Homo sapiens: one gene and its partners. The protein of the gene in region 1 interacts with the protein of each later gene in a biochemical or structural test. Each region holds a gene or a part of one and is shown on either strand. Other genes may lie near its edges.

Region 1 (5,100 bases):
AATTTTAGTTGGGGCTGGACACAGCTCATGCCTGTTATCTCAGCACTTTGGGAGGCTGAGGCAGATGGATCACTTGAGCCCAGGAGTTTGAGACCAGCCTGGGCACATGGCAAACCCTGTCTCTAGGAAAAAAAAAAATACAAAATTTAGCTGGGTGTGGTAGCATGCCAGTAGTCCCAGCTACTTGAGAGGCTGAGGTGGGAGGATTGCCTGAGCCAGGGAGGTGGAGGTTGCAGTGAGCCGAGATTGTGTCACTGCACTCCAACCTGGGTGACAGAGCCAGATTCTGTCTCAAAAAGCAAAAGAATTTTTTTTCATTTTTTTTTTTTAAAGCTGGGCAGGCGTGTTGGTCTTTTTTGACTTGTTAAGGATGAGAAAGGGGAGTGTGGAGAACACGCTGCCCTTACCCTAGGTATAACTGGAGGAAACGAGCCAAGGGAGTCCTACCTCTTAAGAAGAGTTTAATTCGGGCTGGGTGCGGTGGCTAACGCCTGTAATCCCGGCACTTTGGGAGGCCGAGGTGGGTGGATCATCTGAGGTCGGAGTTTGAGACCAGCCGGACCAACGTGCAGAAACCCCACCTCTACTAAAAATATATCAAATTAGCCGGGTGTGATGGTGCATGCCTGTAATCCCAGCTACTCGGGAGGCTGAGGCTGGGAATTGCTTGAACCTGGAAGGCTGAGGTTGCGGTGAGCCGAGATCGTGCCATCACACTCCAGCCTGGGCAACAAGGGCGAAACTCTGTCTAAAAAAAACCACAAAAAATCAAACAAACAAAAAGAAGAGTTTAATTCTCTTAGTCAGCCCATGTACTACCCATCAACTGGAGGGGGAAATATCAGAAAATTCAGGGTCTTCTGGTTAGCCACTATTTCTGCCTTTGCTAAACATACCTCTGTTTTTGTATATTTTCCATACCCATTGCTAACCTTCCCCTCACTTTGTCTTCTTTTCAGGATCACTTCCAGAAGTTCCTTCCAACAGTGGGGGGACAGCTGGGCACAGCTGGTCAGGGATTCTCATACAGCAAGAGCAACGGCAGAGGCGGCAGCCAGGCAGGGGGCAGTGGCTCTGCCGGACAGTATGGCTCTGATCAGCAGCACCATCTGGGCTCTGGGTCTGGAGCTGGGGGTACAGGTGGTCCCGCGGGCCAGGCTGGCAGAGGAGGAGCTGCTGGCACAGCAGGGGTTGGTGAGACAGGATCAGGCAAGTACACTCACCCAAGAGTAATGTGTTTGGTCCCTAGAGCAGAGTTGTCCCAGGAATGATGTCTACGCTGAGTGTGGGGAGCAGAGGAGGTCAGTTTAAATATCTTAATATTAAATATAATAATATCAGTTTAAATATCATAAATATCTTGGTGAATTACCTGGGTCCAGGAGTATATAGAGATGTGTCTATTCTACCCAGAAGCCTTGTTTTTCAGTTACTTTCCTGGCTTTTCGGATTCAGTCACAGATCTGCCCACAGACTATCATTATGCCACAAACCTTATACAATTACCAGGATATTATATCTTTAGTCCCTGGCTCTTGCAATTTCCCTAGTGTAGGGGCGTGGGATTACCTTTCATTGGCTACTAAATGCTATTATTTGACTGAATTTTCTCTCCCATGGCTACCAGGAGACCAGGCAGGCGGAGAAGGAAAACATATCACTGTGTTCAAGACCTATATTTCCCCATGGGAGCGAGCCATGGGGGTTGACCCCCAGCAAAAAATGGAACTTGGCATTGACCTGCTGGCCTATGGGGCCAAAGCTGAACTTCCCAAATATAAGTCCTTCAACAGGTAGGGGTGGTGAGGAAGGAACCAGATGCATTCTAGTGTGAGGCACTGTGTCTTTAGTTAGGATGGAGACTAATTCAAATGTTTCAGAAGGAGGCTAAGGAGAGATGGCAGGGATATGGGGGTCCTAATCAAAGGCCCTGCTCTTTTCACTCTATCTCAGCTTCATCATAGCAGTGTGATGAAGGAAAAAATTTGCTGGGAGGCAGGATTTGAATTCTAGCTCAATGGTCATTTATTAGCTGTGTAGGCATGGGAAAATCACTCTACCTCTGAGCCTGGGTTGCTTTGAACGTTACACTTATTTATTTTTTGTCTTTTTTTTGCTTCCTTTTTGTGGAGAATGGGGTCTCGCTATATCGCCCAGGCAGGTCTCGAACTCCTGGGCTCAAGCTATCCTCCCGCCTCTGCCTACCTGAGACCTGGGATTACAGGGGTGAGCCACCGTGCCCGGCCTGCTTTGAATGTTAAATGCGAATAACATTTTACATGTCTGAAGGCCTCTTGAGGCTCTCTTCCATTCAAGGTTAGGATGCCATTATTCTCCCTGTAATATGATTCTATTTCCTTATACTTTTTTCTTTTCTTTCTTTCCTTCTTTTTCTTTGACTCAGTTTTGCTCTTGTTGCCCAGGCTGGAGTGCAGTGGCATGATCTCAGCTCACTGCAACCTCCGCCTCCTGGGTTCAAGTGATTTTCCTGCCTCAGCCTCCCTAGTAGCTGGCATTATAGGCACCCGCCACCACGCCCAGCTAATTTTTGTATTTTTAGTAGAGATGGGGTTTCACCATGTTGACCAGGCTGGTCTCAAACTCCTGACCTCAGGTGATCTGCCCGCCTCGGGCTCCCAAAGTGCTGGGATTACAGGCGTGAGCCACCATGCCTGGCCACCCTGCTTTAGATGGCTCTAAGTCTCTGTTCTTTTGGAATTAGGCTTCTCTAGCCCATGGAGAGGAGGTCTGTGTGAAAGGATAGGGAAGAGCTAGAAAGGTACTCTTGTATTTGGTCCTAAGGAGCCTGGATTTTCCAGGCAACAATAATTACTCTTAGCCAGGCTATCCACTGTCCACTAGGGTTGGAGAGAGGGGGTCTCTATATTGCAATTTTTTTTTTTTTTTTTGAGACAGAGTCTTGCTCTGTTGCCCAGGCTGAAGTGCAGTGGTGCAGTCTCGGCTCACTGCAACCTCCACCTCCTGGGTTCAAGCAATTCCTATACCTCAGCCACCTGAGTAGCTGGGATGACAGGGGTGCGCCACCATGCCCAGCTAATTTTTTTTTGGGGGGGGGGTGTTTGTATTTTTAGTAGAGATGGCGTTTCACCACGTTGACCAGGCTAGTCTCAAACTCCTGGTCTCAAGTGATCCACCCACCTTGGCCTCCCAAAATGCTGGGATTACAGGCGTGAGCCACCGCACCGCACCTGGCCTTTCTACATTGTCATGTAAGGTGACCTCAGGCCCTTGGGTCTATAGTATTTGGGGTCACTTTCTCTGAAATGCTGGTCTGGGTCACAGCTATCCAAGAGTCTCTAGTACACACTAGACTCCTTTTCTCATTATTAGCTTTGGGGAAACAAGCTAACCAGGAAGGCAAAATGGGATGCTAAGGAAGAAGAAGGAGTACAGATGCAATCCCAAACTAGAATTCACAGACTTCCCTATTCTCAAAGAGGGTAGCATCTCATGATAAGGCTCTGTTTCTTTTATTCTGATTCTTAATTAAATAATGTGTCCCCTTCTCAGGACGGCAATGCCCTATGGTGGATATGAGAAGGCCTCCAAACGCATGACCTTCCAGATGCCCAAGTTTGACCTGGGGCCCTTGCTGAGTGAACCCCTGGTCCTCTACAACCAAAACCTCTCCAACAGGCCTTCTTTCAATCGAACCCCTATTCCCTGGCTGAGCTCTGGGGAGCCTGTAGACTACAACGTGGATATTGGCATCCCCTTGGATGGAGAAACAGAGGAGCTGTGAGGTGTTTCCTCCTCTGATTTGCATCATTTCCCCTCTCTGGCTCCAATTTGGAGAGGGAATGCTGAGCAGATAGCCCCCATTGTTAATCCAGTATCCTTATGGGAATGGAGGGAAAAAGGAGAGATCTACCTTTCCATCCTTTACTCCAAGTCCCCACTCCACGCATCCTTCCTCACCAACTCAGAGCTCCCCTTCTACTTGCTCCATATGGAACCTGCTCGTTTATGGAATTTGCTCTGCCACCAGTAACAGTCAATAAACTTCAAGGAAAATGAACTCATTCTTCCTTTGATATTTGAGAGCAGATGAAAGCCGAGGCTAACAATGCACAGAGACTAATTAAAGCCAAATACTAAACATTAATTATGCAAACTTTAAGACAGATCTGAGCTCCAGTTGCTTACACACCTACACCCATACGCACAAAACCACATTCATAGTTACTTACAAAGACGTTTATTCAATAGTACATGAGACAAATAATCACGCACAAACACATGTGCCGGCCCAAATGTTGGCAAAGCTAAAAAGCTGCTGTGCACCGCAGTTGGGAAATGGGTGTTGGTGACCCTGGTGTTCACCCGCTTTATGTAGTTGATTAGAAGCTGGTATAATCAGGGTTATCCTGATTGTCACAGACTAGAGCATGCCATAAAGTTTCCAGATTATACCAAAGTGGGTTTAGGAATATAAGTGTCAAAGATTACACATTCCCAAAAGGATGAAATAGAATAGGGGGCCATGTGGAATCCAGAAGGAAATGGGAGAAACCAGCTACAGTTATAGTATGCCAGGCTCTGTGTTGAACACAGCAAGAAAAGATCTAAGGGTTACAAGGGCACTACAGTGGTACCTAGAAAGCAGTATGGTTGGGAAGAAATCTTAAGAGCCCGATAGGAATGCGCAACAATATTCTTTTTGCTCATTACAAGGATGGGGACTCTCTAAGAGTCCCAGGCCTACTGCCATGTTCCACAAAGTAAGACTAATGCAGATCAGAAAGAATGAAAAGATGGCAATAAGATCTGAGAAAATAACTTCTAAGGAGAGCTGGCTGAATTCAGTCAACTCCATGAGCTGCTAATGGTTAGATTAAGTTTGCCAGAATCTGCATTAGATGGATCATATTTTAGTGCACCTTGGGTCAAATGGCATTTACCCTGGTCATCTTCACTTATAATCTAATGAGCAAATTCCAGAGAATTCATACCCCCTCTAAGCATTTTTTTTTTTTTTTGAGATAGGGTCTCACTCTGTCGCCCAGACTGGAGTGCAGTGAAGTGGTGCAATCTTAGCTCACTGCGGTCTCCACCTCTCAGGTGCAAGTGATCCTCCCA
Region 2 (5,100 bases), on another chromosome or scaffold:
GGTTTTATCCAGCAGCACATGCCCAGGAAGGCAAAGGGAAGAAGGGTGGGGGGTAACCCCCTGCCCTCTCCTGGGAGAACGAGGGAGCCACTCCTAGCCTGGGGAGGCCCTGGAATGGAAACTGGGGCTGTAGACTCCATGCTTGGTTCTGCCCAGAGCACTTGGTCTCCTTGTGCCAGCTCTGAGCTAAGAAAGGGAGAGAGGAGAGAGAGCCAGCCAGAGGGGCCGTGGAGAGGTAGATATCACTCTGTCAGCCCCCCAGATAAATGTGGAACATCGGCGCTTTGGTAGGCCTAGGTTCCAGAAGCAAATAAAATCAATGTGGTTCTGACTCTCAGGGAACCTGCAGTCTAGGAGTACTCATGTTTTCTACTTTGGCTCAAATTCTGGACTCTTTTATTATTTTTTAAATGACTTTTTTTTTTTAAGACAGGTTCTTGCTCTGTTGCCCAGGCTGGAGTGCAGTGGCGCAATCATGGCTTACCGTAGCCTCGACCTCCTGGGCTCAAGAGATCCCCCTGCCTCAGCCCCACAAGTAGCTGGGATCATAGGCATGCACCACCACACCTGGATAATTTTTAATTTTTTTGTAGAGATGGGGGTCTCGCCATGTTGCCCAGGTGGGTCTCAAACTCCTGGGCTCAGGTGATTCTCCTGCCTCAGCCTCCTAAAGTGCTGGGATTATAGGCGTGAGCCACCTTGCTCAGCCAAATTATAGTCTTACCCTCTAAAAATTCTACTTGTTTCCTCTTCAAAAAACAAACAAACAAAAAATACAACAGGAAGAAACACTTTATTTATATACTTATTTTTGAGTCATAAAACCTGGATTTTCATTTTAGCTCTCCTTATTAGCTTTGTGAACTTGGGCAAATCAGTTAACCTCCCTTATCCTCCCTGGTCTCCTCCTCCTCAGAGAAATAGGCGAGTAATACCTGCTCTTCCTGCTTCCCAGGACCGTTGGAATCATTGTTGTTCTCCAACCCCCACTTTCTGGGCAGCACCTTCTCCCCTACCTTTCTGGCTCGTCCTGAAGGGGAGGCTCTTCCTATTCCCTTCCCCATTGCTTTGCCCTTGTATCTGCTCATCCTCCTCTCTCCCCTCTCCAGGAGAGACGTTTCAGAGCCCTTGCCTCCTTCACCATGCCGGTTGCCGCCACCAACTCTGAAACTGGTAAGAAGGGGGTGAGGATGTTAGCTTATTTCAGTGGTTCAGAGGGTGCCAGGCGAGGACTTAGGGGTGGGCACTTGCACAGCTCCAGATAAGAACCAACTGGCTCCACTGCTGTCCACCCTACCACTCAGCCATTCCTTCTGGCAGCTGCTGTGGCCATCTCCTCTGTGTGGGTTCCTGTGCTGGAACGGAGAAGAGAAAGAATAAGACCCATACCTGCTCCAGTGTAGGGCTGGAGCACAACTCACCTCCGTGGAGGGCAGGGGATGCATGCTCCAGAGGTGACCCGTACTATTGCTGGAGGGCAGTGGCATAGGACCAGGCCTTCAGGAGGTGGCCCCGGAGCTGGGCCTTGGAGAATGGCTTGGGGGTGGAGGGATTACAGCAGCACAGCCTGGGGCTGAGAAGTCCATAATCGCTGCCCACTAGGCCAGCATGTGCCAGAGGTGGACAGGGGGTACTGGGGACCAGGAAGCTGTGAGTGAAGGAACAAGAATACCAGGTTAGGATACCTGGACGTGGCTCTGTAGGAGGCATTAGGACAAGGGAGTGGGCCACTCAGACAAACTAGCAAAGCCTCAGTGGCAAACTGCTTAACCTCTTGGAGCTCGCATTTCTTCTTCTGTAAAGAGGCTGCTGTGAGACGCAAAGGCTGTAATGGGAGAGCACATTACTTTTAGGAATAGTCATAATTATTATGCTGCTGTTGCTGCCGCTGCCACCAAGTTGTTGTTGTTGTTTTTGAGACAAGTTCTGGCTCTTTAGCCTAGGCTGGAGTGCAGTGGCGCAAGCTTGGCTCACTGCAACCTCTGCCTACCAGCCTCAAGTCATTCTCCCACCTCAGCCTCCCAAGTAGCTGGGACTACAGGTGTGCACCACCATGCCCAGCTAATTTTTGTATTTTTCGTAAAGACAAAAATGTTGCCCATGCTGGTCTCAAACTCCTGAGCTCAAGTACTCCACCCGCCTCGACCTCCCAAACTACTGGGATTACAGGTGTGAACCACTGTGCCTGGCCTGAGTTGTTATTTTGGCATTAACCCTGTGTCCTTGAAACAGTCACCTCCTTTTGAAGACCTGAGATTTCCCTAAGATGAGATGATGGGACAAGATCAGTGTTCTTAACTTTTTTCTTTTTCTTTTTTTTTTTTTTTGAGATGGAGTCTCCCTCTGTTGCCCAGGCTGGAGGGCAGTGGTGGGATCTCGGCTCACTGCAACCTTCACCTCCCAGGTTCAAGTGATTCTCCTGCCTCAGCCTCCCAAGTAGCTGGGATTACAGGCACCTGCTATCATGCCCAGCTAATTTTTGTATTTTTGTAGAGACTGGGTTTCACCATGTTGGCCAGGCTGTCCTGACCTCAGGTGATCCACCTGCCTTGGCCTCCCAAAGTGCTGGGATTACAGGCATGAGCCACCACACCTGGCCTGTTCTTAATTTTATTGGTCCTGAGTCACTTAGAATCTGGTGACAGCAGTGAGCCCTCATCGTAGACATATACATCCATGCACAAAAGGTATATTCTACTCTAGGGGATCATGGATTCCCGTAGTGCACGCAGGACCCCAGAAGGTTAAGTTCCCTGTGCTAGAGGCCCTCTGAGGCCCGGGCAGCTGGGAACTGCTATGGTTCTGCTCTGAGTTGTCTGAACTTCCCCCTGCCTGGATGCCTCCCTCCCATGCAGCTCCTTCCCTTGCTCTAGGCCCCACTACTGCCTCTGCCAGAGGTTCCAGGGCTGCCACTTTGGGTAGAATGATTCCTCTGTGCCTCCTCTCCGAGAAAGTGAAGGGAGTGAGCCAGGGCCTAAACTGTGGTACACTTGTCCAGGAAAGGCCTCTTCTCCTTGCAGTGGAGGGATGGCACCAATGTCCCCAGCTTCTGCAGCATCAGAGGGCTCAGTCCCCCATCTCCTGTCCAGCCTGCTGGGCTCCCTGGGGTCTCCCTGCCTCTTTCAGCCTGCCTAGGCCCCACTGTAAGCTGCTTAGGCATTAATTAAACCCACCCCTGAGCCTGTGCTTAATGGCCTCTCCAGCCGGGACTGCCCAGTAAACCCACCAATAGTGCCTGACTGGGGCGTAGGAGGAGGAGCAAGCCCAGCAATTTGGCTTCGTTGTTGCAGACCACTTGATGGGGGCGTGGTGGGGGAGGATGGGGGACAGGGAGTGGAGCCTTGGGGTGTGGCGGTGGGTTCTGCTTCCTCAAAGGACTCCTGGGGCTCCTGCTCCCCTTCATGTTGTTCGAGGGGCTGCTCCTGGCTTCTCATATTCAAAGGAAGAAGTACAAAGTGTTTTTCTTCCTTCAGGCAGCCTCTGTCCTATCCTGAGCTACATTAGCTCCCAGCTTCAAAAATCTAATGGTGGATTCTGCCCCTTATTATCTGGTGGTCATTATACTTCCCACAGGATAGAGAGACAGCTGTGTCCCTGCCTCTGAGTTCAGGCTCCCCTTCCCTCCTCCTCCCCTGGGAGATCCCTGCCTTGGACTCTGCAAAGGGCAAAGCTAATAAGATCCTTTTTCCGCCCTTCCCCATGGGTCAGTATGGTTGAAGGGAGGGAAAGGGTATGGGTGTATTCCTCTTGCAGGGAGACCCCATATCTACTTTGGGTAGAGTCAGGGGCCCTTTTCCTGAGACTTGGGAGATAAATGGACAGTGGCACTGGGCTGAGAACTTAGAGATCCTGAACCTGGCATCTCCTGACCTGCAGCCTTGCTCCCTCTTCCCCTGTCACCAGATTCCCTCCCTTTTTTGGATCAAGGCTGGGATATGTGGCTGCTTTCAGGTGGAGCTGTCCCTTTAAATCTCTCCTCCATCCCTGGGTTACTGTCCTGGTGTGTAATTCTACTGTCATGGCAACCAGGGGTGCAATGCGACCTGGTGCCACTCCTCAGGGAATGTCTGAGTGGAGGCTGCAGTACCCTGATGGTGGCCTCTTGGGCACAAGATCTCAGAGGAATGGGGTCACCGGAGCGGAGCTGAGTCCTTCCCTTCTGCCCACACTTTTCCCTGTGTGCAAATGTGCCCTCATTTTTCCTTTCTGGGGAACTGAGTTCCAAGATGCCTGACTTGCTTCCTGGGCATCATCCCCTTCATTAAGAGGAAGAACTCATGGGAGATGGGGGAGGGGAAGAAGCTGCTGTGAGGCGAGGGGTAAGCAGGGCTGGGGCACCATCCCTACCCACAGCGATGCCACCTCCCCCACGTACCCTGCCTCCCAGTGGCTGACCAAGGGTGGGTAGGGGGAGGCGTCTGAGGCTTGAGGTATTTGCCCCATGCCCAAGTGAGGCTGCCTCCCGGTGGAGGGCTGAGTCGTTCTTGGGGACTTCCTTAGACTGAGGGACTATTGTAAAGGAAACAGGGCCTGGAGAGGGGACTGAGAGCAGAGGTCAGAGGGCATAGGGAGGAGGTGGCATGGGGTGTATTAGAGGAGGGGCTTCTAGAAAAGAGGGTACAGGGACAAGATGGGCCAAGACTTTTCTCCCTCGGGTCTCCTGAAGCTGGCTGTGAGGGGAGGGTCTCGGAGTACCGCGCCAGTCTTGAAGGGGCAGCATGCCTACCCCCTCCTCAAAACTTCCTGTTAGCCGCCTCCTCCCCATCCCCACCGACACTGACATGCTGGGGATCGGGCAATCTGTGGGACTAGGGCTCCCTCCCACCACTCTTCTCCCACCCGGGTTACCGCCTGCTCTGCACCGCGCAGCGCCAGTCAGGGCTTTAGCCAATCAGCAAGGCGGTCACGGCGGCTGAGCCTTCCCATTGGCTGGTTCCTCAGAGGGCGCTCCTCGACTCCCGCCTTCCCCAGCCCGGCCAGGCTTTGGCTGGGGAGGCGGTAGACGGCGGCGTGTAGGACGCTCCGGGAGTCCCCGGGTCTGGGGGCCGCCATGGCAGGCAGCCCAGGCAGCGGGGTCTCCTTGGAGGGTATATCCCTGGA
Region 3 (5,100 bases), on another chromosome or scaffold:
GAAAATATTTTCACTTTTTAAAAATAACTTCCACTGATCCTCCCTTTATGTGTAAACATCTGCTATTTTATATTTATTTTATACTTTAGACATAGTTTATTTTTACATAGTAATTTGTTTTCTTCATACCGCATATCTTTACTCCCAAAGAATTGCTGAATATATTGAATTATTTACTCTAAACTTGACAACATAGAAATCCTATTAGAATTTATTAAGTTTAGGAGTTTATACTTCTTATATTAATACATCATTGTAGTTAAGAGTAAGTATCATGCTGTTGAACTTTTACTTCTCAGCTAGAAATTAAGCACCTCATAAAGAATAACAATAATAAAAGTTAACTCTTAAGTGTTCACAGTCAACAATGTATAATAAAGAGGAAATGCATCAAATTCAGCAAAAATAATACTTTGCATTTGTGAGTATTGCAATGTAAATAAGTTAAAAGGCTATTTGTATTGCATTTTATAGTATTTTATACTATACTATTTTATAGTATTTTATGGTACTGTTAAAATACCATTAAATTTAAATACTATTTAAATACTATTAACGTACTATAGTACTATTAAAATACTATTTTATAGTATTTTCATACTTTGTATGAAAGAAATGCAATATAAGTAAGTCTGTGTATTAATACTGTTACAAGGTGAAGCAACCAACAATACTTCCACTGCTAGCTTCCCCATAATTTTAGCATTTTCGTTGAATTAATCCTATTTTACAGTTCAATGGAAACATCTACCTTGAAGCTCCAGGGTTCAGTATTAATTTCTAAAAATCTCTCCTAGCTATAATCTGGCTATATATTATGACAACAAACATACAACTGCCTTAGTTTAGTGACTTTATTATTACTTACTCCATTCTATTCTCAGCTCTCTTCTGTCTCTAGTAAGTATTTGTTATATTTCCTTTAATAAAAGTAAATTATCTTATATAGAAAACTTAGTAATATAATAATTGCTGAATTTACATTGTTAAAGACTTGCATAGGGACATACATAGTACAATGTCCATATCATCATAGATAATTAATAAAAATTGCTTTTATTATTACGTCTTACTGACATCTTTGTCAACTCTAAAAGGACTTCATATTGAGATATTTTTAAAAAAGTTAAAATTTGTGTTAAGTTTAATATATATTGTTGACTGTTTTGAGTGGTCTGGAAGAAACAATAAAAGTTTCCTTCTTTGATAAGTTATTGAATATTAACTCAATTGCATCCCATTGATGTACTTTTATTTTTTCACTTATTTATTATTTTTTTTTGAGACGGAGTCTCGCTCTGTCGTCCAGGCTGGAGTGCAGTGGCGTGATCTCAGCTCACTGCAATCTCCGCCTCCCGGGTTCACGCCATTCTCCTGCCTCAGCCTCCTGAGTAGCTGGGACTACAGGTGCCCGCCATCCACGCCCGGTTAATGTTTTTGTATTTTTAGTAGATATGGGGTTTCACCGTGTTAGCCAGGATGGTCTTGATCTCCTGACCTCGTGATCCACCTGCTTCGGTCTCCCAAAGGGCTGGGATTACAGGTGTGAGCCACTGCGCCCAACCCCCATTGATATACTTTCAAAGATCCATTAGGCTAATGAGTGGGTGATTTATATGAATGGCTAGATTTGTTTCAATATTTGAAATAATTAGATGGCTTGCTCTACCTGGGGAAATAATTTCTCCATGTAATCGTTACATGAATCCTTATGAGGTTTTATGCCATTTTTATTTATTTTGGCTTACTTTAAAAAAAAAATCACTGTCAAAACCATGGCAGTTTGAGCCTAAATACTTGCTATACTTTGGATATATCATTGGATATACCCAAACACAGATATGTTACAGAAGAAAAAAATAAACCTTTATAGTGCAAAGAGAGATTTTGTCTATGTTGAATTTTCTTCTTTTTTTAATTGTACTTTAAATTTCGGGGTACACGTGCTCAACGTGCAGGTTAGTTACATATGTATACATGTGCTATGCTGGTGTGCTACACCCATTAACTTGTCATTTAACATTAGGTATATCTGCTAATGCTATCCCTCCCCCCTCCTCCCACTGCACAACAGGCCCAGGTGTGTGATGTTCCCCTTCCTGTGTCCATGTGTTCTCATTGTTCAGGTCCCACCTATGAGTGAGAACATGCGGTGTTTGGTATTTTGTCCTTGTGATAATTTGCTGAGAATGACGGTTTCCAGCTTCACCCATGTCCCTACAAAGGACATGAACTCATCCTTTTTTGTGGCTGCATAGTATTCCATGGTGTATATGTGCCACATTTTCTTAATCCAGTCTATCATTGTTGGACATTTGGCTTGGTTCCAAGTCCTTGCTATTGTGAATAGTGCCACAATAAACATATGTGGGCATGTGTCTTTATAGAAGCATGACTTATAATCCTTTGGGTATATACCCAGTAATTGGATGGCTGGGCCAAATGGTATTTCTAGTTCTAGATCCCTGAGGAATTGCCACACTGACTTCCACAATGGTTGAACTAGTTTACAGTCCCACCAACAGTGTAAAAGTGTTCCTGTTTCTCCACATCCTCTCCAGCGCCTGTTGTTTCCTGACTTTTTAATGGTTGCCATTCTAACTGGTGTGAGATGGTATCTCATTGTGGTTTTGATTTGCACTTCTCTGATGGCCAGTGATGATGAGCATTTTTTCATGTGTCTTTTGGTTTCATAAATGTCATCTTTTGAGAAGTGTCTGTTCATATCCTTTGCCCACTTTTTAATGGGGTTGTTTGTTTTTTTCTTGTAAATTTGTTTGAGTTCACTGTAGATTCTGGATATTAGCCCTTTGTCAGATGGATAGACTGCAAAAATTTTCTCCCATTCTGTAGGTTGCCTATTCACTCTGATGGTAGTTTCTTTTGCTGTGCAGAAGCTCTTTAGTTTAATTAGATCCCATTTGTCAATTTTGGATTTTGTTGCCATTGCTTTTGGTGTTTTAGACATGAAGTCCTTGCCCCTGCCTATGTCCTGAATGGTATTGCCTAGGTTTTCTTCTAGGGTTTTTATGGTTTTAGGTCTAACATTTAAGTCTTTAATCCATCTTGAATTAATTTTTATATAAGGTATAAGGAAGAGATCCAGTTTCAGCTTTCTACATATGGCTAGCCAGTTTTCCCAGCACCATTTATTAAATAGGGAATCCTTTCCCCATTGCTTGTTTTTCTCAGGTTTGTCAAAGATCAGAGAGTTGTAGATATGCGGCATTATTTCTGAGGGCTCTGTTCTGTTCCATTGGTCTATATCTCTGTTTTGGTACCAGTACCATGCTGTTTTGGTTACTGTAGCCTTGTAATATAGTTTGAAGTCAGATAGCGTGATGCCTCCAGCTTTGTTCTTTTGGCTTAGGATTGACTTGGCAATGCAGGCTCTTTTTTGGTTCCATATGAACTTTAAAGTAGTTTTTTTCCAATTCTGTGAAGAAAGTCATTGGTAGCTTGGTGGGGATAGCATTGAATCTATAAATTACCTTGGGCAGTATGGCCATTTTCACAATATTGATTCTTCCTACCCATGAGCATGGAATGTTCTTCCATTTGTTTGTATCCTCTTTAATTTCATTGAGCAGTGGTTTGTAGTTCTCCTTAAAGAGGTCCTTCACGTCCCTTGTAAGGTGGATTCCTAGGTATTTTATTCTCTTTGAAGCAATTGTGAATGGGAGTTCACTCATGATTTGACTCTGTGTTTGTCTGTTATTGGTGTATAAGAATGCTTGTGATTTTTGCACATTGATTTTGTATGCTGAGACTTTGCTGAAGTTGCTTATCAGCTTAAGGAGATTTTGGGCTGAGATGATGGGGTTTTCTGATATACAATCATGTCATCTGCAAACAGGGACAATTTGACTTCCTCTTTTCCTAATTGAATACTCTTTATTTCCTTCTCCTGCCTGATTGCCCTGGCCAGAACTTCCAACACTATGTTGAATAGGAGTGGTGAGAGAGGGCATCCCTGTCTTGAGCCAGTTTTCAAAGGGAATGCTTCCAGTTTTTGCCCATTCAGTATGATATTGACTGTGGGTTTGTCATAGATAGCTCTTATTATTTTGAGATACGTCCCATCAATACCTAATTTATTGAGAGTTTTTAGCATGAAGCGTTGTTGAATTTTGTCAAAGGCCTTTTCTGCATCTATTGAGAAAATCATATGGTTTTTATTGTTGGTTCTGTTTATATGCTGGATTACGTTTATTGATTTGCGTATGTCTAATGAAAAAATTTGTAGAAGAAATTTTATCAACCTCATAACTGCCTTATAGTGAAACACATGCATATGACATCAGGAATTTTTCTGTAAGTACCATGGATTTTATTAAGTGACTCTGTGAAATGAAGCAGAAAGAAACAAAACTATTTAATTAAAAATCAAAATGTATATTTAAAAATCTATTTTTATATTACATTGTGTTTGAAGATGTTTGTTAAAAAGTAAATTTCCCAATTCCAGCATAAATTGAATTATTTATATTGCCATGGATCAAGTGTAGCACAAAAACTGTTTATACTTTACATTGTCACTTAATAGATCACAGGGAATGTCTGAGTAAAAATAATACAAAAACAATTGCATACATTTTTAACATTTTGCATTTTACAAGTGAGTATTTTTGCTTATATGAGTATTTTGTGTTGCTATGTGGAGGATAATAAGTGCTATAGAAACCCACAGATTAATCTAGTGACATACCCTAAACTTGTCAAATCTGATTAGCTGGATTTTGTAAACACCAATAAGTTTCAGAGATATGAATTGTCCAATGTTGCTTTTTGTGAAGTTTTTCTTTTGTTTTGTTTTGTTTTTTTAAGAAGGAGTCTCGCTTTGCTTTTCTTCAGTCTAGTGTGGGAGTCACCCCAGTGAACAACAAATTTGTTCTGCATCTTTAGGTACATGGAATACACACACACACACACACACACACACACACACGCACACACACACACACACACACTTCAAACACTAAGGTTCAGGCTGGAGTATAGTGGCATCATCTCTGCTCACAGAGACCTCCGACTCCTGGGTTCAAGTGATTCTTCTGCCTCAGCATCCCAAGTAGCTGGGTCTACAGGCACCCACCATCA
Region 4 (5,100 bases), on another chromosome or scaffold:
GAATATTAGGAAGAAGATGTAAGACAAAACATGTATTATACATATAATTTCAACTTATTAAAAAGCATAATAATTTGTAAATCAATTTGTTTTCCTCCATTGGTTTCCATTATTATGATGACAACATATCTTTAGTGATATTTAGTTTTACCTTTTCTCCTAATTCATCTGTTTTGAAAATGAATAGAAATTTCCTTAGTACAAATGTAACTTATTGTATTCTTCATATATTCAGCTATTTAATAATGTAGTTGGAATTATTAGTAAGAAGCTCTTTCTCACTTTCTAATACCCCGAGCTTTGCCTGAATTTAGGTGGTCATCATTGACTGAGACATCCAAGACCACTGCTTTTATTGCTTTTTGTAATGGCAAGGTCAAAGTTTCCTTGGTTTGAAGGGTGCAGTAACATCCTTTAAGGAGCTACATGTAATAAATATCTGGGTGCATTTTTTTTTTGGATATATGCGATACTGAAACAAATAATTATTTTAAAAATCTGCAAATAAGATTTTCTTCTGTATATTTAATAAAGCAGCAGTTACTAATTTTAAATTTAACATAATTCTCATGTATATGGGCAAAAAAGTGGTAAGAAACTAAAAGAGAGAAAAAGATGAGTTTCAAACACTGACGGCTTGCCTATCCCTAGAAACTATGTATTTTGCCTCCTCTCAAATAGTGGGAAGTTATCAAATTATATATTTTCCGCCAGAATAAAGTGAATTTACTAATATAAGAATTTCAAATAAATCAACTGTAGTAGAAAATTAAATCATTTTGTTATAGCTAACATGAGTATAAAACAGTTTTCACAAGTAATTTTTAATTTACAGATTAAGAAACTGAAATTTAGTGGGGGAAATTCAGTTTTTTTGTTTGTTTGTTTTTGCCACACAAGTAAAAATAGGAAAGCTAGGAAAGGTTGACATATCTTCTAATTTCTAAGTCTATTCTATTTCCCCTACCATAAGGAATGCTGAGAGATTAGTGTGGTGTTGTCTTGATTAATTTCTCTTTATTATTCTAGATAGGCAGGTCTATGGTTTCTATCCGTTTCTAGAAGAGAAAAAAAATGGCAAAAATGAAACACTGGGGTTCCTCCTGTCCTCCACTTGTGATCTTAGGAATGATTCTTAACTTCTCTGAACCTCTTCTTTTTCATCTGTATGGTGGGGATAATGACGATAATATTGCAAGATTTAAATGAGTTAGTACATGTAAAATGTTTAGAATAGTACCTGGCAGAAAGTAAGTGCTCAATAAATGTTAGCTATCCTTATTTCCATTCTTCCTCCTAAACATTTCCCAAAAGTATATAAGTTAATCGATTAGAATGCCTATCCTACATTGGCCCTCCTTTTCCCAGTAATGAACCAGATATTTCTTCCTAACCTGCTACAATCATATAAGAAGGGTGTAGACTCCTTCTTGTTTATATGGGGTCATACAAGGCATAGCCAAAATTTCCTCTGGAGGATGGGTACCTCCTGGAACGAGGTAAAGTATTTCTAGCATCCAATTCCCATTTGGAAGACAGGGGAGAAATAAATGCGCCATTATGATAATTCTAACTAGTTATATAAACGAAAAGCTTCAGTCCAGTGGAGAGTAAAGCGGTCCAAGCCACTGTTCAATGTAAACTCCCTCAAAGCATGGGCTAGAAGCACAGCAAGAAATCCATCACAATCTGGACCACGAGCAGCACTTGCGCGAGAACAAGACCTGCCTGGGACCCAGCTGCAGCATTCTCCTGTTCAAGTGGGGTCTCTCTATTTGCAAGAGAAATATGCCCCATGCCCTAGCAATAGATGAAACTCCAATAAAACAAGACAGACTTACTTTGTGAAATATCTATTAAGTGCATATTATTTTAAAAAGTTGATAGGCTAGAAAGATAAATACGTTAAATGCACTAGCTTTGATGGCATGAAATGAAGGGGTGGAGGCAAAGCAGAAAGGACATGGTTGCAGGTGAGATTTGGAAAGGGGTGGAAAGTTAACGAGGTGGAGGATACAGTTAAGTTGTTCCAGATGGCAGGATCTGACAGAGAAGGCCAGCGAGGGTTAGCAGAATGGATGAGGATGGGGAGACAGGAGAAATGAGGTCCAGCACAGAGAGAGAGAGCATTCTCAACCCAGATGATGATCAGTTCTGAATCATATCACAGAGTGGATGAGGAATCATTAGAGAAGACTGCTGAAGGAACCACAAGGCTAGACACAGACAGATGGGAAAGAGCAAAGTGACCAGAACAGAAAATCCAAGGCCACCAGCAAAGGAGCCATCAGGTTTGGAACACTGATACTGAACTCTGTGATGGATTCAGAATTCCTTGGATTAAAAGATTCTGCAGATGAGAAAAGATGGGAAATATTTTTCCTCTTCCATTAAGACAAAACATTTAAATGTGTTTCTTTAATTAAGATTACACTTAGGAAATGAGTTTCTAAATAGAAGAACTTTTAAACACAGGATGAGTGTCAGAGTTTAAAGGGATTTAGACGTCACCTGAGTAATCCATTAAAAGTTTATCAGACAAACTGTGAGATTGTTCTTGTCAGAGAGAATTGAGAATAAGATTACTGGTTGTCTGAGATGGTTGAGTTTCAGTTCTCTCTGGAAACAAGTCCTAGACGAATGTCTGACCTTCCCTTTCAAGCATAATGATTCCATGATTGGGGTAAGTGTAAGGAACAATGACTGAAAAAATGAGAGTGAGTGTGATCACAACCCAGCCTTTTAATCTTGCTCAGTGCCAGTGGAGAGAGCAATACCCATACATGCCCAGACAGCAGAAAAGGAGAAAAGATACTGAGGTTGGGAGGAGAAATCAGGAAGAAGAGAGGGAGAGAGAAAGAAAGTAGAATGCACAGCAGGGAGCAGTTCCCTGCCAGCCACAGATGTCTCACTTAGACACCCCATTGGGATGAAGGTCAACGGGGCTGCTTATAGTTTGTTAGTGGGAAAGGGACAGGGAGAGTTAATTCTATTTTAGGCCATATGTGTATTTGGGAAGAGAGAGAAAGTGAAGATAAGTAGAAAATAAAATGACACGTAGGCCAGCTATGATGAAAAATGTTGAAGTCTATACTAAAGTGAAGGCAAAGGTTTCCGACATGAGCTTTGAGCCAGTAGAGAAAAGACAGAGAGAGAGGGTGGGTGGCAGCAAAACAATGAAAGGTGCCCAGAGCCGTGCTCCCTGTGGAATGTCAGTAAATATTAATTGGCTGATGTTGGCATTGGTAGGCAGAGTGAAGCTTGTGAAAGAAAAATGCCATTGCCAGTGGAGCACGAAAGTTCAGATCTCGGAGCTCAAAATGGCAGCACCTGAGCAAGCAGCAGAGTCACATCCCATATCACCAGAGAAAGTGATTCTCTGCATATGAGGCCAAACTGTCTCAAGGAAAAGTAATCACACAATCATGACAAGAGAAAAAGAACAAAGTCTGTGGGAGCCATGAAAATATCTCCCCTTCTCTGAGAACATACTCCCTTCCCCTGAGGTATGGTAGCCCCTAGCTGAGAAACCAGGGCTGTCCCAGGTAAACAGCTGTGAAGGTAGGTGCCAAGAAGCCTAGATTTACCCACTCCAGAAAACCCTTTTGTCAGATGTCTCTGGAAACCTCACAAAATGTTATTTTGGGATTTGGCTCTAAGGTTGGGTAATTGGTAGACTCTCATTCTGGAGGAAGAAAAGAACGGCATTGCTTCTTTAGATTTCAATATTAGATGGGAAACGGAATGCTTTTGACGGTGCTTGGTGTTTTCATGAACCAAAGTTCCTCTCATAATGGCAGGCATGGGCCTTTTGGGTAAAGGTTATTTTCTTGCTCTTGTTCTACATTGGTAGGTACCTGATAAGGCAAAATGATTGAAACAGTGGCTTGAAACATTAATAAGAAAATGACTCAATTCCCAAGTCAGAGAAGTGCTAAGTTTACCTGAAATATATTCTACTATAATACTGTGGATCAGTGTCTATGTGGAGTGATCCAAGGACTTGTCTAGAAATACATGTTTTATACATCTTTTAAAATTACATCTGACCTAAAGAAAAAATATTTATTGTTCAATAATATATTCATTTTAAAAATGCTTTTTACACCTATAAATTGTCCCAGCCCAGAATTCTAAGTGCAAAAATGTCAGTGTCTGGCACATAGTAGGTACTTAATCGATATTTGTTAAGTATGTATTAGATATATGAAGAATGTAAGAATCAAGTAAAAATATCAAGAATGTGGGTGTTTGTAGAAAATTGTTTCCCTTTTATTCCATCATTTTCTCCTTAAGAAAATTAAGAAGAAATTGCAATTGCCATATTGCTTTTTCTTGTGGGTGATATCAACCACAAATAGCAAGGTAGTTTTGGAGTCATGAAGCAAACTTCCCCCTGCTAAGATCTGGGTAAGGTTTTAGCCACAAGAGGCCTAATAAAGCTCTTGAAGCATTTCCTAAGAGCTCACAGAAGATTTAAATGCCCTACTACTTTCAACTAGACAAATCCAATTCATTTTAACAAACAGTTTTGAAGTGCCTACTAAGTGTAATGCCTTGTGCTAAATGTCTGGAAGAGTGAGTGTTAGGTGGAGCCCTCAATGGGTATAAAGAAATATGTATGTTTGGGAGTTGAGGGTGAGGGTGTGGGAGTTGTGTGAGTAGGGAGAATGGGACAAGAAAGAAACTTCAAGTGTATATCCACCCCTGTCCCCAAATACACTCCTGACCCTAAAAGAAAGGTCATTTTAATATTGTAATTACATATGTTTCCTGGTTTTATCATTACAGCTTAAGAAAACAGCACCACAAGTATGGGTGGGGTGCTAGAACTCAATGAATCCACTTTGGAACAAGAAGCATGGGTGGAACTTGAACGTTGTTGGACAAGACTGAAGCAGATGGCAAGGCAAGGTACCGTGTTACTCAGGTGCATTCTTGTAAGTATTTGGACAGCCAGTTAAACACAAAGAAGAACCCAATTATGGCAAATTGATTCTGCAAAGAGATTTTATTTTAATCATCAACTGACAGTCTTAAGTTAAATACCAAATAGAGCAGACATAAAGATTTTGGAAAAAAGTGTGAGGTAGCAACTCC

What was found. The genes of interacting proteins can lie anywhere in the genome.
Region 2: the proteins of MYOZ1 (region 1) and MPP2 interact in a test that uses a peptide from one of them, tested with the Homo sapiens proteins (one large-scale study listed by IntAct).
Region 3: the proteins of MYOZ1 (region 1) and MAGI2 interact in a test that uses a peptide from one of them, tested with the Homo sapiens proteins (one large-scale study listed by IntAct).
Region 4: the proteins of MYOZ1 (region 1) and GRIP1 interact in a test that uses a peptide from one of them, tested with the Homo sapiens proteins (one large-scale study listed by IntAct).

What each region holds. Positions count from the first base shown.
Region 1 is NC_000010.11:73,630,593-73,635,692, reverse strand, and holds the end of MYOZ1 (myozenin-1), read left to right. Parts: intron 1-959; coding exon 960-1,209; intron 1,210-1,627; coding exon 1,628-1,793; intron 1,794-3,531; coding exon 3,532-3,763; 3' UTR 3,764-4,081; downstream 4,082-5,100. UniProt on the Homo sapiens protein: Myozenins may serve as intracellular binding proteins involved in linking Z-disk proteins such as alpha-actinin, gamma-filamin, TCAP/telethonin, LDB3/ZASP and localizing calcineurin signaling to the sarcomere.
Region 2 is NC_000017.11:43,900,503-43,905,602, reverse strand, and holds part of MPP2 (MAGUK p55 subfamily member 2), read left to right. Parts: exon of another isoform or gene 1-235; intron 236-1,109; coding exon of another isoform or gene 1,110-1,142; coding exon 1,143-1,173; intron 1,174-4,038; exon of another isoform or gene 4,039-4,319; intron 4,320-4,978; exon of another isoform or gene 4,979-5,050; coding exon of another isoform or gene 5,051-5,100. UniProt on the Homo sapiens protein: Postsynaptic MAGUK scaffold protein that links CADM1 cell adhesion molecules to core components of the postsynaptic density. In CA1 pyramidal neurons, required for synaptic KCNN2-containing channel function and long-term potentiation expression.
Region 3 is NC_000007.14:79,443,134-79,448,233, reverse strand, and holds part of MAGI2 (membrane-associated guanylate kinase, WW and PDZ domain-containing protein 2), read left to right. Parts: intron 1-5,100. UniProt on the Homo sapiens protein: Seems to act as a scaffold molecule at synaptic junctions by assembling neurotransmitter receptors and cell adhesion proteins. Plays a role in nerve growth factor (NGF)-induced recruitment of RAPGEF2 to late endosomes and neurite outgrowth.
Region 4 is NC_000012.12:66,672,043-66,677,142, forward strand, and holds part of GRIP1 (glutamate receptor-interacting protein 1), read right to left. Parts: intron 1-5,100. UniProt on the Homo sapiens protein: May play a role as a localized scaffold for the assembly of a multiprotein signaling complex and as mediator of the trafficking of its binding partners at specific subcellular location in neurons.